Regions from separate parts of the Homo sapiens genome. Here all the other regions are reported to be linked to region 1. The links are microRNA targets in miRTarBase. Many come from high-throughput screens and were not tested one by one. Region 1 holds a microRNA gene; each other region holds the end of a gene's coding sequence.

Evidence for each region. The annotated mature microRNA hsa-miR-6771-3p reads CAAACCCCUGUCUACCCGCAG and lies in region 1 at 1,367-1,387, shown strand. An mRNA with a match to its seed (bases 2 to 7 or 8) in the 3' UTR can be bound and repressed. Matches are read on the target gene's strand: a 7mer-m8 pairs with bases 2 to 8, a 7mer-A1 pairs with bases 2 to 7 and ends in A, and an 8mer does both.
Region 2: miRTarBase lists WDR76 as a target of hsa-miR-6771-3p. Seed matches in the 3' UTR shown: 7mer-m8 at 3,451-3,457.
Region 3: miRTarBase lists ZNF552 as a target of hsa-miR-6771-3p. Seed matches in the 3' UTR shown: 7mer-m8 at 2,900-2,906.
Region 4: miRTarBase lists ZNF345 as a target of hsa-miR-6771-3p. Seed matches in the 3' UTR shown: 7mer-m8 at 1,238-1,244.
Region 5: miRTarBase lists SKA1 as a target of hsa-miR-6771-3p. Seed matches in the 3' UTR shown: 7mer-m8 at 3,687-3,693 and 7mer-m8 at 3,325-3,331.
Region 6: miRTarBase lists PRRG3 as a target of hsa-miR-6771-3p. Seed matches in the 3' UTR shown: 7mer-m8 at 1,645-1,651, 7mer-m8 at 2,118-2,124 and 7mer-m8 at 2,474-2,480.
Region 7: miRTarBase lists SLC35F2 as a target of hsa-miR-6771-3p. Seed matches in the 3' UTR shown: 7mer-m8 at 2,887-2,893 and 7mer-m8 at 2,750-2,756.

The regions. Positions count from the first base shown.
Region 1 is chr16:50,291,289-50,295,978 of GRCh38, forward strand. It overlaps MIR6771 (microRNA 6771), which reads left to right and starts at 1,328; the gene lies at 1,328-1,387. ADCY7 (adenylate cyclase 7) reads left to right here. Exons shown (of 26, transcript NM_001114.5): 4 at 448-609; 5 at 1,388-1,537; 6 at 2,066-2,214; 7 at 3,352-3,463.
Region 2 is chr15:43,865,584-43,870,273 of GRCh38, reverse strand. It overlaps WDR76 (WD repeat domain 76), which reads right to left. Exons shown (of 13, transcript NM_024908.4): 13 at 1,862-4,146. The coding sequence ends at 3,882. Among named protein-coding and RNA genes, the nearest start is that of WDR76, 41 kb to the right of the region's middle.
Region 3 is chr19:57,804,480-57,809,103 of GRCh38, forward strand. ZNF552 (zinc finger protein 552) reads right to left here. Exons shown (of 3, transcript NM_024762.3): 3 at 2,603-4,624. The coding sequence ends at 3,561. Among named protein-coding and RNA genes, the nearest start is that of ZNF552, 8.1 kb to the right of the region's middle.
Region 4 is chr19:36,877,790-36,882,479 of GRCh38, forward strand. It overlaps ZNF345 (zinc finger protein 345), which reads left to right. Exons shown (of 3, transcript NM_001242472.2): 3 at 1-1,786. The coding sequence ends at 508. Among named protein-coding and RNA genes, the nearest start is that of ZNF345, 29 kb to the left of the region's middle. RefSeq lists an enhancer at 1-842.
Region 5 is chr18:50,391,561-50,396,250 of GRCh38, reverse strand. SKA1 (spindle and kinetochore associated complex subunit 1) reads right to left here. Exons shown (of 7, transcript NM_145060.4): 7 at 2,083-4,152. The coding sequence ends at 4,004. Among named protein-coding and RNA genes, the nearest start is that of SKA1, 19 kb to the right of the region's middle.
Region 6 is chrX:151,700,366-151,704,365 of GRCh38, forward strand. PRRG3 (proline rich and Gla domain 3) reads left to right here. Exons shown (of 4, transcript NM_001372163.1): 4 at 141-4,000. The coding sequence ends at 668. Among named protein-coding and RNA genes, the nearest start is that of PRRG3, 6.9 kb to the left of the region's middle.
Region 7 is chr11:107,788,947-107,793,636 of GRCh38, forward strand. SLC35F2 (solute carrier family 35 member F2) reads right to left here. Exons shown (of 8, transcript NM_017515.5): 8 at 2,045-3,854. The coding sequence ends at 3,669. Among named protein-coding and RNA genes, the nearest start is that of SLC35F2, 67 kb to the right of the region's middle. RefSeq lists a silencer at 1,629-1,838.

The DNA.
Region 1 (4,690 bases):
AGCACTCCCAGAGGGGTGGACGCAGGACCAGCCGGTGGGGATGGTGGGGCAGCTCTGGGGGTGGAGGGAGGGCGGGTGGGGCCGCATTGCTGGAGGCAGCTGGTGAGAGGGTGCCTCAGCCTCCCGGTAATCATTTCTGCTGAGCGAGAACCACGTGGCAGGGGCACCAGGTGGGGGCTCCCTGGATCACGCGGGGCATGGAGCCTCCCACCTAGGGTGGCCACAGGCAGTGGATCAGCACAGGAAACCATGAACCTTGTGGCCGGGCCCACCCTAGAAACACATTATGGCTTTTCTTGTTCCCTTGTATGTCTGCCCACGCAGGGGGTGGCGAGGGAGCCAACCTAAGGATACGCACTGGGTGGGCTGCTGTGGTGCAGGGTTCCGGGGGCTGTACGGCCTGGGGCAGCATCTTGGGGCACCGGGCTCACCAGGCTGCATCCACAGGTGCCCTTCTTCCTGTTCATTGTCTTCGTGGTGTACACACTACTGCCCTTCAGCATGCGGGGCGCTGTCGCCGTTGGGGCCGTCTCCACTGCCTCCCACCTCCTGGTGCTCGGTTCTTTGATGGGAGGCTTCACGACACCCAGTGTCCGGGTGGGGCTGCAGGTGAGGGATGGGCTAAGGCCTCTGGGGGAGGTTTTGTGGTCTGGGTCTAAGGGCAGATGGGGGGGCCCCCTCTGGGTGAATCAGACCCGAAGGCCCCGGAGCCGTGTTTGCAGACAGCCCGCTCCAAGGCCGGGCCCTCTCCACGTCTGCTCGGAAGCTGGGCTCCAGGCGTGGCCCTGCCCTCTGGCCTTTGCTTTGCTGGCCTAGGGCTCCCCTGTGGCTCAGCCCTCAGGGTCGTGACCTCAGGCCTTGCCTCCCGGTTCAGGGACACTGTCGTGGGGTGAGTCCCATTGCCGAAGTTTCCCCTCGAAGGCCCTGTCCTGGCGGGGCTTGGGGGAGTACCCCAGGGCACTGCCTTGTGTCTTTGTGTTGAATGAGTGAATCTTCTGTTCATAATTATTGGGTGTTTAGAGAAGTGTTTTCCCTCTGACCAGGCCTGGTGTCCTCTCCAGGCAGAGGCTGGCCCTCCACACAGCCAGCTGGGCGCTGTGCCCTCTGGGACTGCCCTTAGCACGCATGCCCCTCGGGCCCTGGGCTCTGTGAGGTGGTCTCTTCTGCCTCCCTGGGTGTCCTGGTCTTGCAGTCCTAGTGACTCACTAGGAGACTAGCTCCTGTCTGGGCCTCAGTTTCCCTGTCTGCCCCAGGAAGAGTGCCATTCTCAGTGGGTTGAAGGTCAGGGAATGGGAAGAGGTGCCATCACTAGTCCGCCTAGGGGTCTGGTGCCTCGGGAGGGCATGGGCCAGGCCACATAATGAGCCAAACCCCTGTCTACCCGCAGCTGCTGGCCAACGCAGTCATCTTCCTGTGTGGGAACCTGACAGGCGCCTTCCACAAGCACCAAATGCAGGATGCATCCCGGGACCTCTTCACCTACACTGTGAAGTGCATCCAGATCCGCCGGAAGCTGCGCATCGAGAAGCGCCAGCAGGTGGGACCCGGCCCCCACTCCTCACCCTGTACACCCCTGTCCTCTTCCTCTTTCTGTTGGACATGAGACACTCATGCTGCCATGTGCATGAGGTGCATGGCCAGACACCCATGCAGGTCTCACCTCGGTGAGTCCTGGGCTCCAGCAGGGTAACCATAGCCTGCTGACCCTTGACTCTGCCTTCCTCTGTGTGGTTTCAGTCCTGGGCACGCAGTCCCCAGGTGGCGGCAGAGAAGGCCGTAGTGGCTCCAGGCTGCTCACCCATCAGCTTAGCCTCCCCAGCTGAAAGAGCCCTTTCTCAGTCACCCTGAGTCCCGGGGGCTGCTGGGTACATGGGAGGTAGATGCTCAGTTGGGTTGGTGGAGGACAAGAGCAGAGATGGGGACATTGTGGGCAGGGCAGGCAGGCAGGGAGGATGGGGGCCAAGGAGGCCAGGTCTGGGACCTGATGCTACCCTGCCTGTCCCCCGCTGGTCCCTCCGCCGGTCGCTTTGCTGGTCCCTCTGCTGGTCTGCCCACCCACACCCAGGAGAACCTGCTGCTGTCAGTGCTTCCGGCCCACATCTCCATGGGCATGAAGCTGGCCATCATCGAACGGCTCAAGGAGCATGGTGACCGTCGCTGCATGCCTGACAACAACTTCCACAGCCTCTACGTCAAGAGGCACCAGAATGTCAGGTGGGCGGTGAGACGTGTGATTAGCATATCCCGGGGACTGGGCCCACCGTTCCACCGGCCCCCAGGCGGCCTCCCCGCCCTATCTGGAGGCTCAGACCCCTGCCCATATAGGGATTGGGAGAGGGCCCCATGGTTCCAGGTCAATCTGGGGCCCTCCCTGGGTCTCAGAACCCCCACTTGTGGGCAGGATCAGATCAGGGCTCTTAAATTAGAGAATTTAGATTGGTATTGAAAGATCTAGCACACCCCCAAAACTGTAAAACTGTGTGAGCAAACATAGCTTTTGTGAAGGAAGGGGTCCTTTCAGATGGTTCTCAAGGGAGCACAGGACCCCCAGAATGAGGTAAAGCCCCCCGGCCTTGGTGCCCAAGAGTGCCCCGGTTCTGACACCTGTCTTTGGCTGATTTGCAGGGAACCACAAAATTTTACTTGAATGCACTGACCTGAGTTTGTCAAGTGTCGATGTGGGTGCTGGGTGCCGTTGAGTGTAGATGTGGGTCCCAGGAGACCCCCTGGGTCCTCTGCCTGCAGCGCCAGCATTACATCCAAGGCTGGCCCGCTGCCTTTTCTCTGGGCTGTGGATGGTCCATGAGCTTAAGGACTTTGGAGCAGGGAGAACTGGTGCAGATGCCAGCTCTTGGCTTCCCAGCAAGTCTCAATGTCCTGGAGCCTCAGTTTGTGCATCTGTAGAACGGGAGTTCGGCAAGGGCTGTGTGAGGACTCGATGCCTGTAAAGTGCTGGGTGTGGAGGTTGGCTTGAGGGAGCATGGAGCTGCCTCTCACCAGGGAGTTCTGAAGTCTGTGCTGTGGTGAACATTGGATGGGAAAGGGGAAGGCTCCGGGCTGCCTGCAGGAGTGCCCTTCGGCTGTCTGCAGTGATAGGGCCTGGGGTGGGGCCGAGGGCTCCTGTAGGCTCTGAATTTTGCTCCCTTCTGCTTTAACGTGAAGCCCCTGGAACTTTAATCTGTCTCTATGGCTGGGCGCGACTCTCCCATCCCTATGGAGGCTGAGGAAGGACGGGGGTGAATGGGCTCAGGCCTGGCAGGCTCCTGGGGCTCCAGACAGTCCTGCGTGCTCCTGCTGCTGCTGTCTAGGAGCCTGGCTCTGACACTCCCTCCCACCCTGCCCCATCCCCAGCATCCTCTATGCGGACATCGTGGGCTTCACGCAGCTGGCCAGCGACTGTTCTCCCAAGGAGCTGGTGGTGGTGCTGAATGAGCTCTTTGGCAAGTTCGACCAGATCGCCAAGGTGAGCCCGCTGGCCTACAATGGGCAAAGCCAGGCCCCTCCCCTGCCTATTACACCCCAGGGGTGTCCTGTGTTCAGTGCCCTGCTGGAATTGGGATGGGGAGGCGTGGCTGAATTTTAGCATCCAGCCAGCAAACACAAGCGCCCCATGGTAAAGGTGGGGGTGAGTGGTGGCCACGGCAGCCAGGATCCTGTGCCCCCAGAGTGACAGGCCAGTGGGGAGACTGACAGTGCACACTGGGCGATATACTGGGGCTCTGGAGCTCAGATGGGGGCTCAGGAGGAGGAGATGGCTCCATCCTCACTGGCAAGGCTAGCAGCCTCCACTCACCTGGTAGCTCAGGAGGACTGTGGAATGCCCAGCCTCACCCAGAAGCTGCTTTTCACAGGATCTGAGGTGAATCATGTGCACATTAAACTTTTACGTTTTGTTTGTTTGTTTTTGTGAGATGGAGTCTCATTCTGTCATGAAGGCTGGAGTGCAGTGGTGCCATCACTGCTCACTGCAGCCTCGACCTGCCAGGCTCAAGTGATTCTCATGCCTCAGCCTCCTGAGTAGCTGGGACTACAGGCATGCACCACCACGCCTGGCTAATTTTTTTTTTTTTTTTTTTTTTTTTTTTTTGTAGCAATGGGGTTTCGCCATGTAGGCCAGGCTGGTCTCGAACTCCTGACCTCAAGTGATCATCCCCTCTTGGCCTCCCAAGTGCTGGGATTACAGCCGTGGGCCACCACTCCTGGCCCACCTTAAAGTCTGAGATACTTGAAAAAATATCTGAGGAGGAAAGGGAACAGTGTTCTTAGCAGGGGGAACAGCATAGACAAAGCCTGGAGTAGAAAGAAAGCCCCGTGTGTCCATGGGGTGAACGTGCTCAGTGTGCGTGTGAGGTGTGAGGGGGACAAGGGCACAAGGTCTGACATGCAAGGACATGAGGGCTGAGGCGAGGACCAGGATGCTGAGGAGCTCGACACGTGCCAGGCAGGGAGGGGGTAAGGCAAGCAACATTTCCATTAATGGACCAAATGGTCCTGAGAGAGGGTAAGTGCCAGGCCCTGAGTCTGGGTGGGGCCTTGGGCCTACATGGTATGTGCTTTGAAGAAGAGAAGTGTGGGGGCCAGGAAGCCTGGGGAGCACCTAGCCCAGCCTCAGGTGATCAGGGCAGGCTTCCTGGAAGTGGTGGCCATTAAATAGAGACTGAAGTGTAAGATTTAAGGTGGTGGCTCCCTA
Region 2 (4,690 bases), not on the chromosome of region 1:
AAAAAAAAAAAAAAAACTGAGAAGCTATATATGTAATAATTTTAAAGTGAATTGGGTATTTTTCTGATGAGGAAAACCAAGAAGACTAAGTGATTTTCCCAAGATTACATAGTGGTAGAGTCCAAACTAGAACCCAGATTGTCCACCTTCTGGTCTGCTGTTCTTACTCAAGCCTGGAGTAAGTGGGAGCACAGAAAATACTTTCTAAGAAGGAACTACAATGATACCACCACCACATATTTACAAAATATATCCCTATAGCATTATCTCATCTGATTATGTAACCATCACTCTGTGGCTACGGAATTGGAAATGGTCTTCTAAATTCCATGAGGATAAGAGGTGATAATGGGGGCTTGGTCCACTGTGCTAGCTTCTTACCTAATCTTTGTCTTTTCAATTCTGCCTGCCCTCCACTCTCCCATTTCTGTTGCCAGATCATCCTCCTAAACACCAATCAGGCTATGTTACCTCCAAATTTCAGAGGTACCCACTACCTAAAAAATGCTATCTAGCACCCTATCCCCAGCGGAATTTTTTGTTTTTATGACATAAGATTTTGCTTGAAGTGATCCAAAGAGTAAAAAGCACAAGAAACACTGGACCTGGGTGGCTTCCCGTGGCCCTGCCGATTCACAGCAGCCTCCCTTCTGCTGACAGCTTATCAAGAACTACCTGTGCACACACCCCTGTAGGACTCTAGTCCCTACTCCCTCTGCTTTGGGTTCCTCTAGCACAATCTAGCTCCTCTGCACCTGAACACACTTTTGGTTTTAGCTCATGAACAGGCTTCCTCTTCAGACCCCTACGACCTGCTGATGGAATGGAGTAAAACAAGCAAAGCACCCTTTTAATAAATTTCCTCTTGCCCAGTTTCCATTTTGGGGAAAATGTATCATAAAATGTTTTGTTCTTCAGCTCCGTGTAAGTGTACTAAATGTTATCTTCCTCATAAATTCTACCTTTTCATTTGAAAATCCAAGTATTTACAGCCAAATAAGTCAAAATACAATCTGCTGTCTTGTTATTTCTAGCCATCAACACCCTACTAAAAAGCAGGGGGAAATGTACTAAGTCAGAAAGGACCGCCCAATAGGACATTGAAGTTTTTGGAATCTGAAGTTAGAGGGCATATATTTCCTCTTCTCAGATTGATTCAGAAGGCATGTGTGTCTTCTCCCCCACCCTACCCCATGTACTGTACATTAGCTGAAAGGATTTAAATCCTTGTATCCATAGCCCTAAGGCTCCCTGTTTTCCTGGAGAACTCCCCTTGCAAAATCTTCTTGGTGGAAAGGAAGCTCAAAGACCAGAATACTAAAATAGGACTTAAGCAACTCAGATTCTATTAATTCCTAATCATTTGTGGTCTCTCCTAGTCTGACAAAGTCTCTGACAACCAAAAATGAGAATTGTCTGCTCCTTCCTTAAAAGTTACATAACAAAAGCCTGGGTATCTTAAAAAAAAAAAAAAAAAAAAACTCAAGCGGAATTCAGAGCTTAAGAGATATCATAAAGGCCAAACTTACAGAAAAGGCTTATCCCGAAGGAGGCAATCATAATACACACATAATTACAGAAGCCACACAGCTGTAGGCAAGTCTGTGGGAGAAGTACCTTTCACTACAGATTACAGTGTAAGAATGTCCCAAGGGAGACAATTTTCTTTTATGTGCTGTCTAGATTTAAACAATTACTCCATTAGAAAGCTTATCACCAATAAAAAAAAAAAAAAGTCCCTACTCATTCTCCTTCCTTCCTGCACTGCCTGAAGATATAACTCTATAAAGTATAACTGAATATAAATAGCACTGTTTATGAAGCCACAATGGCAAAAGAAACCACAAAAGTGAGGAACATCAAGAATTTGCTAACATTTATTGACGAGCCCAGGCAATTACTGCCAAGTATTCAAAGCTTAAATGATGGTACTAATTTGATTGAGAGTAGTTTTCAGCATCTTTAAAAACAAAAACAAAAACAATTCCCGTAGAACTAACCACTCTAGAACCCATGAGATTAATTGGTATAGAAATGAAAAAGGGAGCCTAAAGCCTTTACGATGTTTCCTGAACAGTTTAATTATAACTCAACCTCACCTAGCTTTTCTTTCCCTTTATAAATTAACATTTCCATCTCACTTGTCAATTCTTCTACTTATATCAACTAGAAAATAGAGAACTATTGCTTATAAACACCTAAACCTATTAAAAAACTAAACCTTTTTACACTTAGATTACAGAGAAGAAAATTATTTAGAAATTGGTTTTCAAGGAAATTGTATATCACTATATTTCTCTGATATACAATTATGGGAAAATATTTCCTCTTAGAATTCAAACATATTGCCAAAGCCATTTACAAGTCTTTCAGTATTTGGCAATGAAGAATAATGAAAAAAGTTGGATAGATGTCACACAGTAATATTAGTAACTGATTTGGCAGCTCCCCTCCCAACAACAAACACATTGAAATTACCATAACTTCTGAAAAGAAAACATTTTCATAAAATACCAAAAGTGGTGAGTATTTCATAATATTCCCCCAAATACAAGTAAGAATGAAGGTATTCACTTAACAGGCTATTGAATTTCCTTCGGACAGTTTAAAGATCGGGACAGGTAAGCCTGGGGCCTTCTTCATTCTAAGCAGTAGCTTTAACTTCTTTATCCATTACCCATGGTACTATAGTAATAAAATATATATATATATATATTTTACATCAGAATACACATAAACATATATACCTAACAAATATATATGCATATGTAACTAAGTTTTACCAAACAATACTTACTCAAATATATTTTCTGTTCTTTACAAATTCTTTCCTTTTCATTTTTTTCAACACCAGTCATTGTCATCTAACTTGATTTCATGTGAAGAGCAAAAACCCAGTCTGAAAAACACAGGTCTGAGGCAATCTTATACTGGAATGCCGGGACCAGGGCAGATCCCAACCCGGTGCTTGGGAGTCCTGCCTGTGTCTCAGGAGCCATCTAGAGTAAAGGCAAAGTACAGACAGACCCAGACCCCGCCCTGGGTAACCAAAGCTGCTCAGCAATTATCTTGGCATTTCACGTAAGACTTAACCTACAGGCAGGGGGCAAAAAAAGTTCTCAGTTAAAAAAATCAAGTTTTAAAATCACTGAGTTACATTACCTTTCCGGGTCCCCTTCCAGTGTATGAGTCTAGAAATAAGTATTCATTATAAACTATAAAATAAGCCACAAATTACTATAGAATCAAAACTGTATCATTAGATCACAAAAACTTTAATAGTCAAAGCTTTGTAATTTATAATGTTAGAATTTCTCAACATACTGTCTTGATTACAAGTTCTGATGGCCAGGCATGGTGGCTCACGCCTGTAATTCCAGCACTTTTGGAGGCCGAGGCGGGCAGATCACCTGAGGTCAGGAGCTCGAGACCAGCCTGGCCAACATGATGAAACCCCATCTCTACTAAAAATACAAAAAAATAGCCAGGCGTGGTGGCAGGTGCCTGTAATCCCAGCTACTTAGGAGTCTGAGGCAGGAGAATCGCTTGAACCTGGGAGGCGGAGGTTGCGGTGAGCCAAGATCGCGCTATTGCACTCCAGCCTGGGCAACAAGAGCAAAACTCCATCTCAAAAAAAAAAAAAAAAAAAAAGTCCTGACGGCACCTCAGCCTCCCCTCAAATTCCCTCCCCGTCCTGCAGAAGCAACCCTCCAAGACTTCTCCCTTACTAAAAGTACACTCTTCTTATAGTCTTATTAATAAAACAATGTTATAATTGCTAAATGTAACACATTACCACATAAACACACTAAGGCACGCCGATTACTAGGCTCCTTAGACAGTGGTCAATTTGAACAAATTGATGTTCCTAAACCAAAAACTCAGCAGCTTTTTTCATTCATAAAAACATGTATCTTCCCGCTGGAATTACCTCCAGCCAAAATATACCGAGTTGGGTGCATGGCATTGATGGAACACACAGAGACAAGGTATTCTCCACCAAACGAATGCACCCTCTTTCCTGTCTCATGGAAGATTTCTACCCGTCGTGGATGGGCCATGCTGCCAACTATGACACAGTCTTCTTGTTTAGGATCCCACATGGCTTGGAACCTGGTCAGCCATCGCCCAGTGAAAGTGTTGTGCCTAGTGAGGAAAACAATATATTTTTTAAATGAAGTAAGGTTAAATAAGGTAGCATTGGGCAGAGGGTAAAGACGGCATTGCTCCTAAATGCTAGTTTTCTCTGCCAAGTTTCTTCTCATTAAGTTACTGAGTTACCACCAACCTTACCTCATCCTTACAGGACTGAACCTCTGGACAGAGACGATATCCTCCTCATCTAAAAATCTCCCAAAATAAAACATATGGAGCCCTTTATAGTTCCCAAAAGCAAAAACAGAAGTACTGCCCTTTTAGTCTTTTTGCCTTAATATCACTAACAATCCTTTTTCATTAAAGTATGGACTACACATTTCCCACTGCCACTTAAATGACCCCATCATTAATGAAAATTCTTACCCCCTAGAATAGTCACCCTACATAAATTTTTTAAAAATATACATAATATGGCCAGGCACAGTGGCCCAAGCCTGTCATCCCAGCACTTTGGGAGGCCGAGGCAGGTGGAACACCTGAGGTCAGGAGTTCGAGACCAGCCTGTCCAACACGGCGAAACCCAGTCTACTAA
Region 3 (4,624 bases), not on the chromosome of region 1:
TGAGAGAGGACTGGAGACCGCCCCTAGAGAAGAATGTATCCCCGTACGGATTGCCACCAAATTGTTTGAAATGCTTGTTCTCCGGTGCCATAAAGAAATAGCACTTGAACATAAATTTATTTAGTAAGGCCATTTTTACTTCCTGCAGAAAGGGTACACTCAGCCAGCAGTTTTGGCACGAGAGTACACAACTAAGGAGATAGGGTCATTTATAACCTGACGCGTCCACCCTACTGCTATGTCCGGTTTCCACTGGCTGGGATGGGGCCTCACATTCTGTATTTGTCCCGATTGGCGAGCAACTTAGAATTTTTTTTTTTTTTTTGATGGAGTCTCACTCTGTCGCCCAGGCTGGAGTGCAGTGGCAGGTTCTCAGCTTACTGCAAGCTCCACCTCCCGGGTTCACGCCATTCTTCTGCTTCAGCCTCCCAAGTAGCTGGGACTACAGGCTCCCGCCACTATGCCTGGCTAATTTTTTGTATTTTTCCTAGAGACGGGGTTTCATGTGTTAGCCACATGGTCTTGATATCCTGACCTCGTTACCCGCCCGCTTTGGCCTCCCAAAGTGCTGGGATTACAGGCGTGAGCCACCACCCCCCACCACCGCCCAGCCAATTTAGAACCTTTTAAAAGAAGCAAAGGTAGATGAGAACAAAGGAAGGAGGAAGTAACTTGTGGAATGCTGAGAAAGGTGAAAACACTTTTAAATAAGGAAGAGGAACAGGCTATGACCTAATGCTTGCTTGGACCAGTATAAGCATGCCAAGGCAAATATTTAGGCTAAATTGTGGGAGCTAAGAACATAAAGTACGTTGATTTCTTTATGACGGCTAGCAGATATTTAAGAATGTTAGCACAGGTCTTTGAATAAATTTTGCTTATAAGAGAAGTTACCATTTATTCCTAATTAGGGAGGAAAGTCTTTGAAAAGGAACCTCTACTTTACTTTTTAGTTACTATGAGGATCACTATATCAATGTTTCTTAATTCATATGCTAAAGTGCACTCAATTTTTTTTTTTTTTTGAGACGGAGTCTCGCTCTGTCGCCCAGGCTGGAGTGCAGTGGTGCGATCGCCAATTGCCGCTCAATGCAAGCTCTGCCTCCTGGGTTCACGCCATTCTCCTGCCTCAGCCTCTGGAGTAGCTGAAACTACAGGCACCCACCACCACGCCTGGCTAATTTTTTGTATTTTCCCTATAGAAGGCGTTTCACCATGTTAGTCAGGATGATCTCGATCTCCCGACGTCGTGATCCACCTGCCTCGGCCTCCCAAAGTGCTGGGTTTACAGGCGTGAGCCACCACGCCCTGCCCTCAATTTCTTTTTTCACATTGACATCTATCTCAAAGGAAGAGCAACTTAACCAATGCCTTTGTGGTACACATCAGTGGCTACAACTTTCACAATTACAGCACAGATAAAAAAGGCATCTGAATAACAGCATAAACATGGCATCTGAGCTCCAAAATTTCATCTCCTTACAAGAAAGTGGTTATTTTCCAGTGACTGCAGGAATAGTTTCACACTGGGTACTGGCATTATCTCAGAATAAATGTTTTTGTTTTATTTTTTTTGAGACAGCGTCTAACTGTCGCCTAGGCTGGAGTGCAGTGGTGTGATCTCAGCTCACTGTAACCTCTGTTGCCTGGGTTCAAGTGATTCTCCTGCCTCAGCCTCCTGAGTAGCTGGGATTACAGGCATGTGCCACCACGCCTGGCTAATTTTTGTATTTTTAGTAGAGATGGCGTTTCACTATGTTGGCCAGGCTGGTCTCAAACTCCTGACCTCAAGTGATCCACCCACCTTGGCCTCCCAAAGTGCTGGGATTACAGGCGTGAGCCACCACGCCTGGCCTCAGAATCAATTACAGGCGCAGTGGCTCACGACTCAGGCCTGTAATCCCAGCACTTTGGGAGTCCAAGGCAGGCAGATCATTTGAGGCCAGGAGTCTGAGATGAACCTGGTAACACGGCAAAACCCCATCTCTTCTAAAAATCAAAAAACAGCCAGCATGGTGGCTCATGCATGTAATCCCAGCTATGTGGGAGGCTCAGGTGGGAGAATCGCTTGAACCTGGGAGGTAGAGGTTGCAATGAGCCAAAATCACGCCACTGCACTCCAACCTGGTCGACAGTCTTTAAAAAAAAAAAAAAAGCAGCCGCACGCGATGGCTCATGCCTGTAATGCTAGCACTATGGGAGGCCGAGATGGGCGGATCACAAGGTCAGGAGATCGAGACGATCCTGGCTAACACAGTGAAACCCTGTCTCTACTAAAAATACAAAAAATTAGCCAGGCGTGTTTGCGGGCGCCTGTAGTCCACAGGACTGGCTGAGGCAGGACAATGGCGTGAACCCGGAAGGCAGAGCTTGCAGTGACCTGAGATTGCCCCACTGCACTCCAGCCTGGGGGACAGAGTGAGACTCCACCTCAAAAAAAAAAACACAAAAAAACACAAGCAGCAACTCAAATATCCATAAACGGATGAATGAATATATAATGACATTTCATGGCAGACTATACTTCTCAGCAATATACAACAAATTAACTCATGTCTACATTGATATCAAAATAAGCATGATGCAGGAGAGCACCCAGGGATTATAAGAGGAAACACTTTATTACATCAGTCAGAAAATTCTAGAAAATGGAAAGTATTATACAGCAGAGTAAATCAATGGTTGTCTGCATAGAGAAAAACTTTATAAAGGCTCCAGGTGAATACAAAGGTGATAGATTAGATAAATTCATTATTGTGACTCTGATGATGGTTTCATGGGATTATAAGAAAATTCAAGCCAGGAGCAGTGGCTCACGCCTGCAATCCCAACACTTTGAGAGGCCAAGGCGGGCAGATCACGAGGTCAGGAGATTGAGAACTTCCTGGCTAACAGGGTGAAACCCCATCTCTACTAAAAATACAAAAAAGGTAGGAGTGGTGGTGGTTGCCTGTAGTCCCAGCTATTAGGGAGGCTGAGGCAGGAGAATGGCATGAACCCAGGAGGCAGGGCTTGCAGTGAGCCGAGATTATGCCACTGTACTCCAGCCTGGGTGACAGAGCGAGGCTGTCTCAAAAAAAAGAAAAAGAAAATTCAAGACTTATCCTACAGCTCAAATATGCATACTTTATTGGATGTCATTTATATATTTTATTTTTGAAACAGGGTCTCACTCTGTGGTCCAGACTGGACTGCAGTGTTGCAATCTCGGCTCACTGCAACCTCTGCCTCCCAGGCTCAAGCAAATCCTCCCATGTAGCAATCCTCCCACATGACAGCTCTCCTGTGAGTTATGCAGCCAGACTTCTGGATAAATATCCTGTATTTGTCACACTAGTAAGGCCTTCATTCAGTGTTAACTATAATCCTGAAGGAATACAGAGGTGTGGCTACAAAACTGCCCAAATTTATTTTACTTGTAAGGACTCTTCTCTAGTGTGAACTCTCCAATATCCAAGGAGAGCAGACCTTTGGGTAAACATTTTCCACATTTGCTGCAATCACAGGATCTTACTCAGGTGTGTATTCTCCAATATTTAATGAGACTGGACTCACTGCACTCATAAGCCCTTTCTTTTGTGAACTCTCTGATGATGACGAAGTGAAGAGATTTGCCTAAATTTTTTTTCACATTCACTGCACCCGTAAGGCTTTTCTCCAGTGTGAACTCTCCTGTGTTTAGTGAGACTGGAGCTTTCGGCAAAAGATTTCCCACATTCACTGCACTCATAAGGCTTCTGACCAGTGTGAACTCTCTTATGAACACGGAATGTAGAGCTGTGGGTAAATGACTTCCCACAATCACTGCATTCATATGGCCTTTCTCCAGTGTGAACTCTCTGGTGTGCAATGAGGTGGTACTTGTGCCTAAAAAATTTCTGACAAACCTCACACTCATATGGCTTCTCTCCAGTGTGAATTCTCTGGTGTACAAGGAGGTGGGACTTACTGTTAAATAATTTCCCACATATCCCACACGTATAAGGTTTTTCTCTAGTGTGAACTCCTTGATGATTACTGAAGCTGTCATATTTGCTAGAGGATTTCCCACATTCACACCACACAGAAGGTTCTTCTGTAGGGAGCAGTCTCTCGTGCTGACTGAGTATATCTTTGGTGCTAAAATGTTTCATGCATCCTCCACAGCTGTAATGGCTTTTTCCCCCATGAAACAGAGACACACACTCAGTTTTGCTGTTTGACTTCCCAGTGTGAGTGGCCTCTTGCTGGAGTAATCCTGACCTGAGCAAAAAGTCTTTCCCACTCTCACTGAAGACAGATGACTCCCCTGACACATGCAACTTACACCTCTTCGCAAACAACGCCTCCTCAACACTCCCTCTGTAGGGTTTCTCTCCAATGTGCTCATTCTGGTGCTGATGAAAGTTTCCACTGTCATACAATTTATTCCCCCAGGCCTCACACCTGTGCAGTTTCTGCTTGTGATGTGTTCCCTGATGATCTGCCACATGCAAAATGTCTCCCAAGATCGGGCCACACATCTCACAGGGGTGGGCCTTCTTGGGAGACACACCTGCCATAGGAGTCCTGACCTGAGTCTCTCTTTGTATATAAATACTCTGCTTAGAAGGTGCCGCCTCATCTTCCACTCCACACCAACAAC
Region 4 (4,690 bases), not on the chromosome of region 1:
GAAAGCCTTTAGAAGTGGTTCAAAACTTATTCAGCATCAAAGAATGCATACTGGAGAGAAACCTTATGAATGTAAGGAATGTGGGAAGACCTTTAGTAGTGGTTCAGACCTTACTCAACATCACAGAATTCATACTGGTGAGAAACCCTATGAATGTAAGGAATGTGGGAAGGCCTTTGGTAGTGGCTCAAAACTTATCCAACACCAGCTAATCCATACTGGTGAAAGACCCTATGAATGTAAAGAATGTGGAAAGTCCTTTAGTAGTGGTTCAGCTCTTAATCGGCACCAGAGAATACACACTGGTGAGAAACCCTATGAATGTAAGGAGTGTGGGAAGGCTTTTTATAGTGGCTCAAGCCTTACTCAGCATCAGAGAATTCATACAGGTGAGAAACTTTATGAATGTAAGAACTGTGGGAAGGCTTATGGGAGGGATTCAGAGTTTCAGCAACATAAGAAAAGTCATAATGGTAAGAAACTCTGCGAATTGGAAACTATAAATTGAAATTATGTGCTGAAGGAAGGACTCTAAACATATGACTTAAGAAAATTCATAGTGGTGAAAATCTCTACAAATAGAACTAAGGTACAAATGCCTTACTTATGCTTCACAGGTTAGTCAGTCTAAGAATATTTATACAGGAAAAAAATCACCCCAAATAAAATAAATATTTGAAGATCCTTATCTATATTCATTCCTTCATTACTTTTGGAAAATTCTTACTTGTGAATGTTAAAAATGAAAAAAAAATCATTTATTATATTTTGCCTCAACTTTAAACATTGGAAAACTCATTTCTGGGTTAATCCTACTATATTTTTTCAATGGTCTTTTTTTTTTGTATTATACAGAATTACTGATTCATTGAAAAATTATTTTATTTATTGCAAGTCTAAATTTATCCTTTTTTTCTTTCCTGATTATCCTAACACCATTTATTCAATAACCTTGTCCATTTTCATATTTTTTTTATTGACTATTTGATGGTAAGTTACATTTTTATTCACATAAAGCTTGGATATCAGGTCAGTGTTTTTTTGTTTTTGTTTTTGTTTTTGTTTTTTTGAGATGGAGTCTCACTGTCACCAGGCTGGAGTGCAGTGGTGCAATCTCGGTTCACTGCAACCTCCACCTCCCGAGTTCAAGTGATTTTCCTGCCTCAGCTCCCCAGTAGCTGGGACTACAGGCGCCCGCCACCACGCCCAGCTAATTTTTTGTATTTTCATTAGAGATGGGGTTTCACCACGTTGGCCAGGATGGTCTCGATCTCTTGACCTCGTGATCCATCTGCCTCGGCCTCCCAACGTGCTGGAATTACAGGCATGAGCCACCATGCCTGGCCCAGTGTTTGTTTTTTAAATTTATATATATGTATCTATGTCTCATCCTGTTTATGGTCAATAACTGTTACTTTTAAGTATCCTTTAATACCTGTACCTTTTGTTTTAGAAGATTGTTTACTTTCCTTTTATAAAATTATACTCTCCATTTTAGCAAAACAGCTTTCCCTCATCATAATGTAGATAAAAAGAAAAAAAGGATATGGTTACCTGTAATCTTACCAATCATAGATAATCACTGTCAAACTTTTGGAGCAAATCCTTTAATACTATCTCTCATTGTTTTGGAAACAAGGTGTGATTATGCTATACTATAACCAGCCCTTAATATTTTTTGTCTGTAAATATGTTGTTACCATTTTATTGGCTTTATAGTATTCACCTGTCTTTATCAAACCCCAATTTTGTCAAATATTAAAAATTTTGCCATTATAAACACTTACCTTGATGGCCCCTTTTCAGTGTGTCTGATTTATTTATTTATTGTTCATTTCAGAGATAATGTATCAATTGCTTTTGCATATAAAAGATTTTTACATTACAGATAAAGCCGGCCTTTCCTTTGAGCAGCATTCCTGGCCTCAGTTCCTTTCCAATGTTAACCAATTTACTTATTCTTCCAGATCCTTTTATATGCATCTGTAACATACCTATGGTAATGTGGGTAGAATCAATACCTCAGAGCCTTATTGTGTGGATTCTATAATTGTGCCTATCACATAATAAATGCTTAGTGAATGTTACCCATCACTATTATCTTCTCAAGCTTCATCTTTATTATTTCTAGAAAAACTTTTAGCCATGATCCATACCTTACTCAACAACAAAGACCTCATAATGGAGAAAGACATTCATTTAAATGAATGTAGGGAAAATTTGATTGACATTCTTTCCTTGTTGAATAAGAATATTTGCTGCCAGGCACAGTGGCTCACACCTGTAATTTCAGCACTTTGGGAGGCCAAGGTGGGTGGATCACTTGAGGCCAGGAGCCTAGCCAACATGGTGAAACCCCATCTCTATTAAAAATACAAAAATTAGCCAGGCATGGTGGCGTGTGCCTGTAGTTCCAGCTACTCGGGAGTCTGAGGCATAAGGATTGCTTGAACCTGTGGAGGTTGCAGTGAACCAAGATTGCACCACTGAACTCCAACCTGGGTGACAGAGCAAGGCTCTGTCTCAGAACAAAATAAAAATAAATAAATAAAAAATTGTCCTACAGAAAAAATAATAAGATTATAAAGTGTGAGAAGACAAATACACTATAAAATTTGTACCAGGGTAGAAGTAAAAAAACTAGCAGTTTTCTCCATTGAAATCCAAATATTAATTCAGTACTCATCTGCATGATTCTTTGCTTAAAAATAAAATGCAGGCAGGCACAGTAACTCTTGCCTGAAATCTCAGCACTTTGGGAGGCTGAGGCAGGAGGATTGCTGGAAGCCTGGAGTTTGAGACCAGCCTGGGTAACATAGCAAGCCCCCATCTCTACAATAAAAGTTTTAAAAATGAGCCAGGCATGGTGGCCTCCAGCTACCAGAGGCTGAGGTGGGAGGATCAGTTGAGCCCAGGAATTCAAGGCCTCAGTGCACTATTATTGTGCCACTGCACTCCAGCCTGGAAAACAGAATAAGATCCTGTCTCTAAAAATAAATGAGTAAATTAACTAAAATCAAATACATTATTTTTTAAATAAGTGGCACTGAATAGATTACATAGCAAAACCTGTGAGGACCTGTAATATACAGAGGAAATTTTATAGCTCTAAATTCATTCATTTGTTAGAATGTTAAAGAAATTATAAATAAAGAAACCAAGCATATAACCCAAGAAGCTGGAGAAAGAATAACTACAACAAAAACCCTAAGGATAATGGGAGGGAAAAATAATTTTAGAATAAAAAAAGCTAGATCAATCACAACCTAATGTTTTGAAAACAAAAATAGTAGCAGTTCTCATAAATAAAGGTATATGAACATGAATGCAAAAGCGACATTACTCTAGAGACTTTACAGATTACAGGTTGAGCATGCTTAATTTGAAAATTCAATATCTGAAATGCTCCAAATTCCAAAACTTTTTGAGCTCAACATTATGCTCAAAGATAATTTCAGACTTCTGGATTAAGTATGCTCACCTGGTAAATATAATGCAAATATTCCAAAATCCAAAACACTTCTGGTCCCAAGCATTTTGAGGGATACTCAGCTTATGTTTATTACGATTACATGTAACCTTTTAATAATTATTTTGAAAATTGAACATTTTAGTAAAAGGATTTTAATCACCAGAACTGACTCAAAGTGGCATAGAAATGGGTATTATATAAGGGATATAAAGCAAAAACTATATCTAGGAAGGCTGGGGAAAAAAACCCTGTAGCCAAAGTCTCTTTTATACCCCCCAGTCAGGTCCCTTGAGTGAATATTCTGGCATTCAATCACATTTTGCATTGGAAAGAGCAAAAGATGAAAATATATCAGCATTAGTATATTTTATGTCTTTTTAATTTGAGGTAATTAGATTTTTTAATTTTTAAAAAGAATGGAATAGGAATCATTAAAAACAGACTAAAGTAACATGAAATCTTAAGATGCTACATATAAAATACATCACTTTAAATATGAAACTAATTTTTAAAGTCCTGCAGATTAATCTGTTGGAGATATATATTGAAACCCACTTTCAGAGACATTAAAATGCGGGGTAAAAAGTGCATTTTAGAACTGATAAACTACTTCATCAATGATTTTAATGGTTCCTTTTCTTTAGATTTTCAAATTCGTTGATATTGGCAAACAGAATTGGCTTTCAGTTTTCAGTCTCTGTATATATATTTGTATTTCTACTCATAGTTTTATTTTTAAACCACTTTATTCCTCTAAATTGATTTGAAGGAGTCCCATTCATTTTACTTGTTTTTTTTTTAAAAAAAACCTTATCTGGGTTTTCTTCATGCTTTTGACTATTTTTGTTTGCTTTTTCTATTTCAAAAATATATTTCACTATTTTCTTTTTATTTGTGTGTATTTCTGTTGAGTACATGTGCTTGGTTAATATATTTTCAGTCTCTTTTAAATTGGAAGCATTTAAGGCTACAAGATTTCCTTTGAATATTGCTGTATCTGGGGCCCATGGTTTTTTTTTCTTCTTGAGATGGAGTCTCGCTCTGTCACCAGGCTGGAGTGCAGTGGCGTGATCTCGGCTCACTGCAACCTCCGCCTCCCAGGTTCAAGTGATTCTCCTGCCTCAGCCTCCTGAGTAGCTGGGACTACAGGCATGCGCCACCACGCCTGGCTAATTTTTGTATTTTTTAGTAGAGACGGGGTTTTACCATGTTGGCCAG
Region 5 (4,690 bases), not on the chromosome of region 1:
TACCCCCAAGTGGAGTCAGCAAGGGCAACCAGGTGACTGCCGTGATTATCTTGTTACAGAAGATAAGAAGACTGTGGTTCTAAGAGATTAACTAACTGAAGCTTGTACTGCGTGTCAGTAGCATAACCAGGATTTGAACTCTGGTTAGCCTTCTCACCCCAAAGTCCATTACACTGCCTCAATAAATGTCTTTTACATACATATATTTACTAATAAGATTGTGTAATGACATTTCATTAATAAAAACGAGTGGGGTTTCAAAACAGATTGCTTTATGTCAGGTTGCTTTACGTCATAAAGCAAAACAGATTGCTTTATGTTTCCAAAACATATTTCATGGAGCATTAGTATGCCCAGAGATATGAATACGTATTCCTCAGAAATAACGAAAGAGGTAATGGAAGTAACTCTCCACAAGTAGAATGTGTGCTCCACTACACAGCCTGTCTCTGTTGGAGATTTAGAAAATAAATGGGTAAGATGAAGGACTTCAGAAGTCATGAAATAATAAAATCTGCTTATCTTTACTTAACTAAGCACATCTCACACTCTTATAACCACAGAATCCTTATTAAAACCATCTATGGGCTGGGTGCAGTGGCTCACGCCTATAATCCCGACACTTTGGGAGGCCGAGGGTGATTGCTTTAGCCCGGGAGTTCAAGACTAGCCTGGGCAACATAGCAAGACTCTGTCTCTACAAAAAATACAAAATAAAAAAAAAAGCCAGGCATGGTGGCATGCACCTGTTTGGGAGGCTGATGTGAGAGGATGGCTTCAACCTGGGAGGTGGAGGCAGTGAACCAATATCACACCACTGTACTCCAGCCTGGACATCAGAGTGAGATTCTGGCAAGAAGAAGAAGATAAAGACAAAGAAGAAGACAAAGACGAAGAAGAAGAAGGAGGAGGAGGAGGAGAAGGGGAAGAAGGAGGAAGAGGAGAGGGAGAAGGAAAAGGAAGAGAAGGAGGAGGAGAAGAAAGAGAAGGAGGAAAAGGAGGAGAAGAAGAGAAAAAGAAAAATTGTATTAGTCTGTTCTCACACTGCTAATAAAGACATACCCAAGAATAGGTAATTTATAAAGGAAAGAGGTTTAATGGACTCACAGTTCCTCATGGCTGGGGAGACCTCACAATCATGGCGGAAGGCAAATGAGGAGCCAAGTCATGTCTTACATGGCAGCAGGCAAGAGAGCTTGTGCAGGGGAAGTCCCATTTATAAAACTATCAGATCGCGTGAGACTCATTAATTACACCATGAGAACAGCATGGGGAAAACCACCCCCGTGATTCAATTATCTCCACCTGGCCCTGCCCTTGACACATAGGGATTATTACAATTCAAGGTGAGATTTGGGTAGGGGCACAGCCAAACCATATCAAAAATCAAACAATACTTAAAATAAAGAATAATGCCATTATTTTCACTTAAGTTGAGGCATGAAAAATTAAACATGCCTGTATTTAAATTAAGGAAAACAAAAGGATAACAGTAAATATGCAGCGTCTGTGTGTTCATCACAGTGATGGTGTTAACCAGGCCACAGGCTTGGTGAGACACATTTTTTCTCTGCTACAGGGACAAGCCTGCCAAGCAGATGGCACAGACATAGACAGACCAGTCTCCCCAGGTGCCTGAGAGAAACATGGCTAAGTTCTTACAATCCCATTACCCATTTTTCTTGACTATTATCAACCTACCCACACATTATTTTATCATGTTTTTCACCAACAAGGGAAAAGCCTGTTTTCTTCTATACTACATTCACATAATATTTCTGACACCAAATGTGTGGAGTTTTTTTCCCCATCCCAACCAATTTTCCAATTCTCTAGACACCAACAGAGTATCCTATATTTAATTGAATTCTGACACTAAATACCTAGAGTTGATGCAGACCCCACAGATTTAAGGGCTCAGTCCCATAAAACCATCCCCAACTTCAAACACCAGTCACAACTAGCAGGTCCCCAGGTTGCCCATACTTCTGTCCAACATGGCTACACATGGGGGTTCCCACAACCCCCTCCTCAGGTTTGATAATTTGATACGGCAATACAGAACTCAGGGAAATGCTTTACTTGTGTTTAACAGTTTATTTTAAGGCTACTACAAAGGATACAGATGAACAACAGCCACATGAAGGGGTACCTGGGGCAAGGTCCAGAAGCATCCTGAGCACAGGACTTGCTGACTTCATAAAGCTGGAGTGCGTCACCTTCCTGGCACATCAAAATGTTTGCCAACCCTGAAGCTCCCTGAACTCCATAGTTAACGGATTATGTCTTGTTGACATAGGCCTGATGGATTATTGACACAAATCTCCAGCCCCTCTCCCCTCTCTGGAGGTGGGAGACTGAAAGTTTGAAACTTCCAATCATGATGTGGTCTTTGTGAGCAGCCCCCATCCTGAGTTATCCAGGTGCCCATCAAGAGTGACCTCATTAGAACAAAAAATTCTCCTATCACTGGGAAATTTAAAGGAATTTAGGAGCTTTGTGTCAGGAACTGGGGTCAAAGACCAAATACTAGAACAAAAGATGTACTCCATCACTTTGGAAATTACAAGGGTTTTAGGAGCTCTGAACAAGGAACTAGATAGGAAGATCAAATATATATTTCTTATTATATCACATTATCACATCAACTCAATGTACATTTATTACACTTTCATTACAGGTTGAAGTTTACAGACTGGTGTACACTAAATGCATTTCAGGTAAGCTGCTCCCTAAGGACCTATACGAAAGCCCAATAATCAGATGATAAACTGTCTCCAAATCCAGCTTCCAGGAAGTTTACCTATAGACTGAAATGCCATCGATGGAATTTAGACACTAGTGATCTTTAAGTCCAAAGGGCCTGGGTATCCTAACCTCATCAGCTTGATCTTTTTCTTCCAATATCACATCTGTACCCAGTCTTTTTTTCTTTTTTTCTGAGATGGAGTCTCGCTCTGTTGCCCAGACTGGAGTGCAGTGGCACGATCTCGGCTCACTGCAACCTCCACCTCCTAGGTTCAAGCAATTCTCCTGAGTAGCTGGGACTACAGGCGCATGCCGATCTGTACCCAATCTTATTAGGGTCTGCAGCATTGTTCACTCAACACAAAAACTGGACATGAGCATTTTTTAGTTCCATTATGTGCCTAGTACAGAGGCGTATTCAGCAGGTAGTTAAATATTTGGTGAGAGGAGGTGAATCTTGAAAATATATAAGTTGGCCGGGCGCGGTGGCTCACGCCTGTAATCCCAGCACTTTGGGAGGCCGAGGTGGGCGGATCATGAGGTCAGGAGATCGAGACCATCCTGGCTAACACGGTGAAACCCCATCTCTACTAAAAATACAAAAAATTAGCTGGGCGTGGTGGCAGGTGCCTGTAGTCCCAGCTACTCAGGAGGCTGAGGCAGGAGGATGGCGTGAACCTGGGAGGCAGAGTTTGCAGTGAGCCGAGATAGCGCCGCTGCAGTCCGGCCTGGGTGAAAGAGCGAGACTGTCTCAAAAAAAAAAAAAAAGAAAAAGAAAAAAACAAGAAATAAGCTTTATCCAAAAAAGTTTTATTTTTATAAGAAACAAGAATAGGTCAGGTGTGGTGGCTCAAGCCTGTAATCCCAGCACTTTGGGAGGCTGAGGAGGGTGGATTGTTTGAGCTCAGGAGCTCAAGACCAGCCTAGGCAACATGGTGAAACCCCATCTCTCCAAAAAATACAAAAATTAGCCAGGCATGGTGGCGCACGCTTGTAGTCCCAGCCATTCAGGGGGCTGAGGTGGGAGGATCACTTGAGCCTGGGAGGTTGAGGCTGCAGTGAGCCATGTTTGCGCCACTGCACTCTAGCCTGCGTGACAAAGCAAGCCCCTGGGTGACAAAGCAAGATCCTGTCTCAAAAAAAAAAAAAAGGAAACAAAAAAGATTAAAAGTTAAAAAAATTATATATAAGAAAATTATAGAAATAGCCTCTATACTCTATACCCTGTTGGTATGTTCAAAAGTTCACAAGGGACTCAGGTTATAACATAACGAGTAAGTCCTCCCCCTCGGACCTCTGATAGCCTCCGGCAGTGTCGTAAAATATTCAGTAACACGTGAAACTTCTTGTCAGCTTTCAAAGTTGTGAACTCCTTTATGTCAGCTTCCACTATAAAATAACGACCTAAAAATAAAGATATTAGTGCTAATTTTTATAAGGCCAACTTGCAAAAGAGTCTTTAATACATTAAGTTGTGAATATGAATGGTATTAGTCGTTTTTACTGTTAGTATCCAATAAAACCAAGAACTAGTATTCTTGCTAAAATAATAATTATTCTATCAACAGAAGTTGCATGCATGATATTTATTAGGTCACTAGCTATCTGTTGGTATCGCTTGAACAATTCACTTTTCAAGAGGCAATGTGACATAGTGGTTATAAGAATAAAACCCGTAACAGTGTTATCATTTAACTGGATGACCTTGGACAAGTAAGTTAAGCTCTCTTTGCCTAGTCTACAAATTGGGAGTAATAACAGTAAGTGATACGGGTGTTGTAAGGATTGAAGCTCTTGGCACACTCTCTGCCATACAGTAAGTAGCTATATCAACAGGACTAGCTATTATCATTACTATTCAATTTCCTAAAACATTGGGCATAGTTTCACAATAGACTCTAAAGCAATGTTTCTCAGGCTCAGCACTACAGACACTGTGAGC
Region 6 (4,000 bases), not on the chromosome of region 1:
CCTTGGTACATTCTGCTGCCTCTCTGGTAACTCTGTGAGACAAGTCAGATGGGGAAGGGTAGGAAGCACCAGAGTTACTGAAGGCCTCTGAGCCCACCTGGAGCTTGAGCTTCTCTTAAGTACCACTTTTTCTTTTGCAGATGGAGTTCTGGAAAGGGTACCCAAATGCAGTCTACTCTGTCCGAGACCCCTCGCAGAGCTCAGATGCCATGTATGTGGTGGTACCCCTTCTGGGGGTGGCACTGCTGATTGTCATCGCCTTGTTCATCATCTGGAGGTGCCAGCTGCAGAAAGCGACCCGTCACCACCCCTCCTATGCTCAGAACCGGTACCTAGCCAGTCGCGCCGGGCACACCCTCCCCCGGGTCATGGTGTACCGGGGTACTGTGCATAGCCAAGGGGAGCCTTCTGGGCACCGAGAGGCAGCGAACAGCCCCCAGGTGGTGCTGGGGCCCAGTCGGGGGGGCAGGACCACAGTCCGGCTAGAGAGCACCCTCTACCTCCCTGAGCTCTCTCTCTCCAGACTGTCCAGCACCACCCCTCCCCCCTCCTACGAGGAGGTGACTGCGCCCCAAGAGAGCAGCAGTGAGGAGGCCAGCGTGTCTTACAGTGACCCACCCCCAAAGTACGAGGAGATAGTGGCCGCCAACCCTGGCGCTGACAAGTAGTGGGACGTTTGTGCCCTGTCCTGGATGAACGCCTCTTTCCGAGGTCTCCTATTTTCTTTTTAACTTTTTAAAGACTGTGCCACCACAAAACAGCCTTAGCCTCCTTGTTGCCAAATAATTCCCTAACTGTGGAGTTTTAGGAAGTCAGTTGTCAGAGACAGGTGGGGAGGGTGGGGGTAGGGACCACGCATGAGTCGAAGCCCCCGGGAAGAGCCAAAGGCCAAAGTGCCCAACTCTTTGGGATGACCCCCAAGCCTCCAACATCCTGTCTTTCCATCAGGAACTGGCTTCTCTTATGCCAAAGGAATAACCCCATTGAGTTGATTGTGGCCAGAATGTCCACAGGCCTGGCCTGGGGGCTGTGGGACTGGCTGGAGGCCTGCCTGTGTCTAGAGCTCTGGGCCTCAGGGGTAAGGGAAGGAAGCCAGCCTTTCAGCACCCCTTACCCTCCACAGTTCTGTGATTTCTGTCCTTGCTTACATTTGGAGGACAGGGACAAGGACTGAGCAAAAACAAAATGAAAAAATCATGACAAATAAATAATTAACACAATAGAACAAAACTCTAGCACCCGGGCCGTTCATAGGAGGCCAAGGGAAATTTATCACATGGATCTGTGATGTCCGCCTCCCCTAAAACCTGTCCCCACACTCCTGGAAGGAGGACAGGGTGTGTGAAGGATGAGGGCCAGAGGGCTGGGTGGCAGAGTTTCCTCTTCCACATTGACCAAGGGGCCCACGTGGACTCTGCCATTCAGTTTCTAGTGTGCTTGTCTCTCCAGACATGTGGACCAGCTGTGTTCAAACCACTACCCACTGGCATGAGCCTACTTTTTGCGAATGGTGCATTGAAATTGAACTTCAGATTGAGGATTTCTCCTTAACGATGGTGCGCATCTCAGGAGAAGATCCTAAAGTGTCCCTTTTAAAACATTTATTTGTGGAGAAGCCCGTGGCCTGGGGTTGAAGGCCCATATGGGGTTTGCTCTGCTGTTGCCAGGTGCCAGTCTGTTTTCAGTGAGGCTTTGGACAGCAGTGGGGCAGAAGGCACCTGCCCTTTAACTGTCAGTGACCATGCTAGACACTGTTGATACCACCTCCCCCTACTTCCGTCTCCATCCTCCTGACCTCAACACCAAACCATTTCTCCTCTGTGGTGCTTTAAAAATTGTAGCAAATTTTTGTGTGGTGCAAGAATGCATGGCCTGCGTCTATTGGCAACCACAGCAATTTAAAATCCACTGAGCTGACAAGCTTTTTTCTGTCAAAATATCTCTCTAAGGCAGACATTGGGACTCATTTCCTTGAATGCAGCCCTGCCTTCAGGCCACAGAGGACTTCTGGAGGCTGCTCTAGCCCTGAGGACTTGCCCTGGGACGTGCTTCCAGTTAGAAGGCTTGTGTCCCTACCCCAGTGAGGCCACCAGCTTGGACCACTCCACCCTGTGGCTGGGGTTTTCCATCCTTCCCCCTACCTCACAGGCCCGTTGGAGGCTGACTGAGCAAATGCCTGCGAAGTGCTTGAATTGCCGGGGAGCCAGCGAGGTTTGCCTTAGGAAGAGTCTTCTAGAAAGGTGTAGGTTATAAGGGAGCAGTCTTAGCTGAGGCCCTCATATGCCTCTGATGTTGAGTCTCCACTTGGAGAGTCAATCTCCCGTCAGTTGACCCTTTCCATCCTCTCGTCCTCCCTTTCCAGAGCTCCCTGATGCCAGAGATGCTGGTGAATGCAGGTGACATTCTACCTTTCGTTTCCTTGTCTTTCCCTCCCCTGGGCCTTCAGCATTGCACTCCTGCCCTTCATCACAAAGGGGTTTTTGGCTTAAGAGGCCCCTGCTTTTTCCATGTTGGGGGACCTGGGGAAGCCTGAAGCTCGGGGCTAGCCCTGGCTCTCCCAGTATTTCTTCAAGTAGGTGCCAGAGTGTGACCTGGGAGCAGGTGAGAAGAAACTTATCCCAATATGTCTACTCAGTTAGCACAGAGCCAGGCATGAGCTCCACTGATCAGAGCCAAAGGGAGTTTGCCAAGAAATGCCCGCTGCCTTTGGCATCTGAGTTGCAGCTGGGTGGTAATGGGAGAGAGCAGGAAGAGGCCCAAGGCCTGGCCCATGGAGGGCAACATGTGTCCTTCAGGGGCTGAGGACAGGCCGTGGGAAGAGTCACAGGAGGTTGCTTAAGGCCTGTGATGTTCGGTTCAGATGCTTCATGGTGTTCTGCCAGGTGGGGTTGCACCACGGTCTCTGGGATGGTTTCTGCAGCACATTGTAGAAAAAAGACTGTACAGCACACAGCAGGCATCACTCCTTGCGATGCACACTTGGATTTTATGAATGCCCTGTACATATCTTTTCAAACTCTGTGTTTGTATGGAGGTGGATTTGATACAATGCTGACTCTTTCGTGGCTACATTTTTGCTGTTTTTGGACTTCTATGTGTGTGTGTGTGTGTGTGTGTGTGTGTATCTATGTGTGCACGTTGCCTTTTCTCATTGCTTATCTGAAACAATAGCCGGTGTGCAGCTATATTTGTACCAGGAGGGATCCGGTCTGAAAAGAGGAATGTCACCTCCCCTCGCAGGGCTGAGTAGCCTGATGACAGGGCCCTGAGCAAGGAAACGTGGCATTAACTATATTGGACACCCAACCCCCAAAGTTGTCACTGTTTGCCTCCTTGAAAAAGGCTTTGGAAGAAGACAAAGCAGCTCCATTCTGCAGGTCTCCACCCTATGCAACCCCCGCTCACACGCCCTTTTGGCATGGTGCCCCTGGCCCAGGCTTCTGTTCTGTGGGTGTCAGCAGCTGAAAGAAATCTGAGTACTCCTGGGCATGGTTTTTTTTTTTTTTTTTTTTTTTTTTTTTTTTTTTTTTTTTTTTTTTTTTTTTTTTGTGTGTGTGTGTGTGTGTGTGTGTGTGTGTGTGTGTGTGTATGGAAAGATGTGTGACTATTGACTTTGGGTATCGCGGGACTAGTTAATTAGATGTTTTTCATTTTTCAAAAAGAAAAGGTTTTAAAAATTTTCTTGAAATGTGACTGTCACTTGTTTTCAACCAAAAACTTTTTAAGATTTTTTAAAAGAAAAATCGAAATCCTGTCCCTCCCCCGCTTCCCATCGCCTCCGGTTTTCAAAATGAAAGCACAAGTGCAAGAGTGGGGTGCACAGGTGCCTGGCGTGTACACACCACCCACACAGCTGCGTCCAGCCCTGGCTGAGGGAGACGCAGTGCTGAGCAGTCAGCCCCGGGAGGCCTCTTTTTCAACTTCCAATCCCACTGCCATGAATGTGAATTCCTTAGGGTGCTTCCAAAAACAGGAGTCTGCCTGATCTGTTGGACATTGC
Region 7 (4,690 bases), not on the chromosome of region 1:
TCAACACAGATAAGTTGAGATTTGGATGGTTTCCTAGGGTTCAAAAAATGCTATCTCCTTTTTCTTTTTCTTTTTTTTTTTTTTTTTGAGACAGGGTCTGTTGCCCAGGCTGGAGTGCAGTGGCATGATCTCGGCTCACTGGGGCCTGGACCTCCCAGGCTCAAGTGATCCTCCAGCTTCGGCCTCCAGAGCAGATGGGACTACAGGTGCATGCCACCACACCCAGCTAATTTTTGTGTTTTTTAGAGACAGGGTTTCAGCATGTTAACCCAGCTGGTCTCCAACTCGTAGCCTCAAGTAATCTGCCTGCCTCAGTTTCCCAAAGTGCTGAGAAACAGGACTAGCTGGATTTCCTTGGCTAAGAATTCCTAAGCCTAGCTGGGGAAGGTGACCTCACCCACCTTTAAACACAGGGCTAGTAACTCAGCTCACACCCAATCAGGTAGTAAAAAGGGCTCACTAAAATACAAATTAGGCTAAAAGTAGGCAGTAAAGAAATAGTCAAATCATATATCGCCTGAGAGCATGGGGAGGGGACAATGATCGGGATATAAACCCAGGCATTCGAACCGGATCGGGCAACCCCCTTTGGGTCCCCTCCCATTGTATGGGAGCTCTGTTTTCACTCTATTAAATCTTGCAGCTACACTTCTTGTCCGTGTTTGTTACGGCTCCAGCCGAGCCGTCCACCACTGCTGTTTGCTGCCGTTGCAGACCCACCATTGACTTCCACCCCTCCGGATCTGGCAGAGTGTCCACTGTGCTCCTGATCCAGCGAGGCGCCCATTGCTGCTCCTGATCAGGCTAAAGGCTCGCCATTGTTTCTGCATGACTAAGTGCCCAGGTTCATCCTAATCGAACTGAACACTAGTTGCTGGTTTCCACGGTTCTCTTCCGTGACCCACGGCTTCTAATAGAGCTTAACACTCACCACATGGCCCAAGGTTCCATTCCTTGGAATCCACTGAGGCCAAGAACCCCAGGTCAGAGAACAAAAGGCTTGCTGCCATCTTGGGTGTGGCCTGCCCCATCTTGGGAGCGGCCCACCACCATCTTGGGAGCTCTAAGAACAAAGACCTGCACGTAACAGTGCTGGGATTACAGGCTTGAGCCAGTGCACCCGGCCTACTTCCTTTTTCTAAAGTCCATCCTGGTGTATATGTATCCTAAACACCCAAATATGTAACCAAAGACTTTGTGAATGACCCTGCTCACCAAACAGCAACCTTGCAGGATCAGCAACTGCAGTTCTGACTGCGGCTGTCGCTGGTGTAAATAAAATGAAACAATGAGCAAAATAGCACAAATTTAAAACTAAACCATCAGTGTGCTAATCAAACTGAAAGTCTTCCTAAAAGAGCCAAACATTTTAACATAACCTTTCCCACTCTCATAGTTGTTAATGTTAGGGAGCAAAAACCAAACATCGATTGAAAAGGCAGTTTTAATTGGTTGCAGAAAATGAAAGGTTACTTCACTCAAAAAAGTAAAAAAAAACTCATTGTGGTAATTCAGAATTGGAAAATGTTTATTCCTGCAAATGATCGGTAAGCTTGCTCTGAATTCCCTGGAATCCCAGCATAGTCCCCAAATAGACAGGCTTGCCTCACCCCACAGAGGATACGACTCTGAAAAATTGAATATGAAGAAATACTGAATATGTCAAGTCATTCAAAATCCACAAGGAGGCCAGGCGTGGTGGCTCATGCCTGTAATCCCAGCACTTTGGGAGGCTGAGGTGGGTGGATCACTTGAGGTCAGTTCGAGACCAGCCTGGCCAACATGGTGATACCCTACTAAAAATACAAAAATTAGCTGGGCATGGTGGTGCATACCTGTAGTCCAGGTAGGAGAATTGCTGAACCCAGGAGGCAGAGGTTGCAGTGAGCTGAGATGGCACCACTGCACTCCAGCCTGGGCGACAGGACAAGACTCAAACAAAAAAAAAAGAAGAAAAAAAAATCCACAAGGGTTTTGAAGGACGGCTTTACTGGAAAAAAAATCCACAAGGGGAAATGGTTAATCAAAGAAACCACACAGTTGATGTATTTCCATGAATTCAAAGCCTTTTAATGATGTGAACACTTACTCCCCATTTCTTTTTTACATTGTTACAAAAAATTTACATACAGTTTTCTGAAAGTGGCATTTTGTTGGTTGTTATTATACTGATGACACATATTAACACTTTGTATTGAAGAAGTATCATAAAAATCACAGGGCATTACAGATTTTTGATAAGAAGTAGTAATAGCATTGTCTTTTAACAGCTGGAGGCTCCCAGGCATACTCTTTGGTGAGAAATGATTAATTTTATATTTTCATTTTGATGAGAATCTTTTCTTGTTTTTACCAGTTATAAAAACAAAGCTTTTTCTTTGTTGTGATACTGTGCACTAAGACTTAGTTTCTTGAGCTGATGCTAAATAAAATGAGATCAATAGGAATATTCCAGGAGGTCGTGAGAAGTTTTTAGAAAGGATGGCATCTACATATATATGGAGCTCTGAAAACTGTTGGAGAGTATGACCTGGGACTGAAACTGTGGAGCACATAGCCAGTGTCACAGGCTCCGAGAGCAGAGAGAGTTTGCTCTGGGACCTGGAATGAGTGATGGAGAAATGTTTTAAACAAACAAACAAACAGGCCAGGCACAGTGGTTCACATCTGTAATCCTAGCACTTTCGGAGGCCGAGGTGGGCAGATCGCTTTAGCTCAGGAATTTGAGATTAGCCTGGGCAACATGGCGAAACCCCATCTCTCTACAAAAACAAACAAAACAGGCCTGGCACGGTGGCTCAAGCCTGTAATCCCAGCACTTTGGGAGGTCGGGGCAGGCAGATCACTTGAGGTCGGGAGGTCAAGACCAGCCTGGGCAACATGGTGAAACCCCATGTCTACTAAAAATACAAAACTTAGCTGGGCGTGGGGCCACATGCTTTTGTAATCCCAGCTACTAACACTTGAATCCAGGAGGCAGAGGTTACAGTAAGCTGAGCTTGCACCACTGCACTCTAGACTCTGCATCTCAAACAAACAAAAAAACAATTGTGGGAAGGTTCCTAGGTTTACTGCACTCCAGTTTAATGCTTGTATAGTACTCACACTTATATCTCAAGACTTTTCAAGGGCTGACCCACCCGTTTTCTGCCACATGCAGTCAGCCCCAAGGCCTCATCTGTACCCAAAGGCCTGTGGACAATAACTGCCTCAGCAAAAAAAAAAAAAAAAAAAAACCTTGAAGCATCTGACAGAGGAAACGTACTCCAGAGCCACCGTGAGCTGCCCCTGTTCCTGACCACCAAGCCCAGCCTGGACAGCCTGCTTTCCCGCCCTGGCCTGAGGCTGGCTCAGTCCTGGATCTCTCCCCAGTCCTGCTTTCCCACTGGTGCCTCTAAGACCCCAGTGTGGAGTCTGCACCTCATCTCCTCAACACGAACAGATATTGGTCCTCAAACACAGAAACACACTCTTAGCTTGGTTTCTGCTCTATTTTGGTATTTCTACTTTTGAACTTTGTTCAGTGTTCCTTTCTAAAACCTAACCACTGGATCCAACCCAGGGTTGTAGAGTGTCCATTCTGAGTCTGCTATTTCCCCAAGTGTCCCCTCAGCAGGCAGCAGGCTCTGCTTTATCCTGGTGGGGGATGGGTGCGCCATCTTCTCCAGCTACAAGACAGCAGAGTGGGTCTCCTGGAGGTTCTCCTCCAGCTTCAGCCCCAGGTTGTCAATCCCAATGCTGGTGACTGGAGGCACGCTGCTTTCAGCCGGCTCGGCCGTGCGAGTAGGGGTGGAGCAGTACAGGATAAACCCCACCATGATGACAGTGAAGGACAGGATGTAGAGTCCTGAAAACTAGAAGGGAAGAACAGGCAGTGAATTGTGCCCCTCACATACACATCTTTGCTGCTGGCTTTTGCCAACTGTGCTTCGAGGATTACCCTCTCATAATCTTTTTATTTTCTTTCTTTCTTTCTTTCTTTCTTTTTAAGACAGGGTCTCGCTCTGTGGCCCAGGCTGGAGTGCAGTGGCACAATCTCGGCTCACTGCAACCTCCACCTCCCAGGCTCCAGTGATCCTCCCGCCTCAACCTCCAGAGTAGCTGACACCACAGGCACTCACCACCACACCCGGCCAATTTTTGTGTTTTCTGTAGAGACGGGGTTTTTCCATGTTGCCCAGGATGGTCTCGAACACCTGAGCTCAAGCAATCCGCCCGCCTCAGGCTCCCAAAGTGCGGGGGATTACAGGCGTGGGCCGCCATGCCTGGCCTCATGATCTTTTTTCTGAAAGTTACCTAAGGAGATGCTAATGCACAAAACCTTCCCATGTATGCTGGTGAATGATGGGACTCTGCCAACAGCACCCGGCACATAAGCCACCTGGATCCTTGGATCTTTAGGAGAAATGGACCTTTGCTTTTCTCTGTCATAATCCAGCTACACCCCACTCTGCATATAGTCCCACTTAGTGGAGAAAATAAAAGGTCATCATGGATACCACAGAGAGCCCCATTCAGACCCTAGACACTGCTTACAATATTGGTATGAAGCAGAGGAACGTAAGACTATGATGAAATGTGGAAGTACAGAAGGGGCATCTGCTCAACAGCCTCTCAATGTGTGCTATTCAATGAAATTCATTTTGCTAAAATTTAATACATTATCTTGTCTCTGTGGGCAAGTATTACA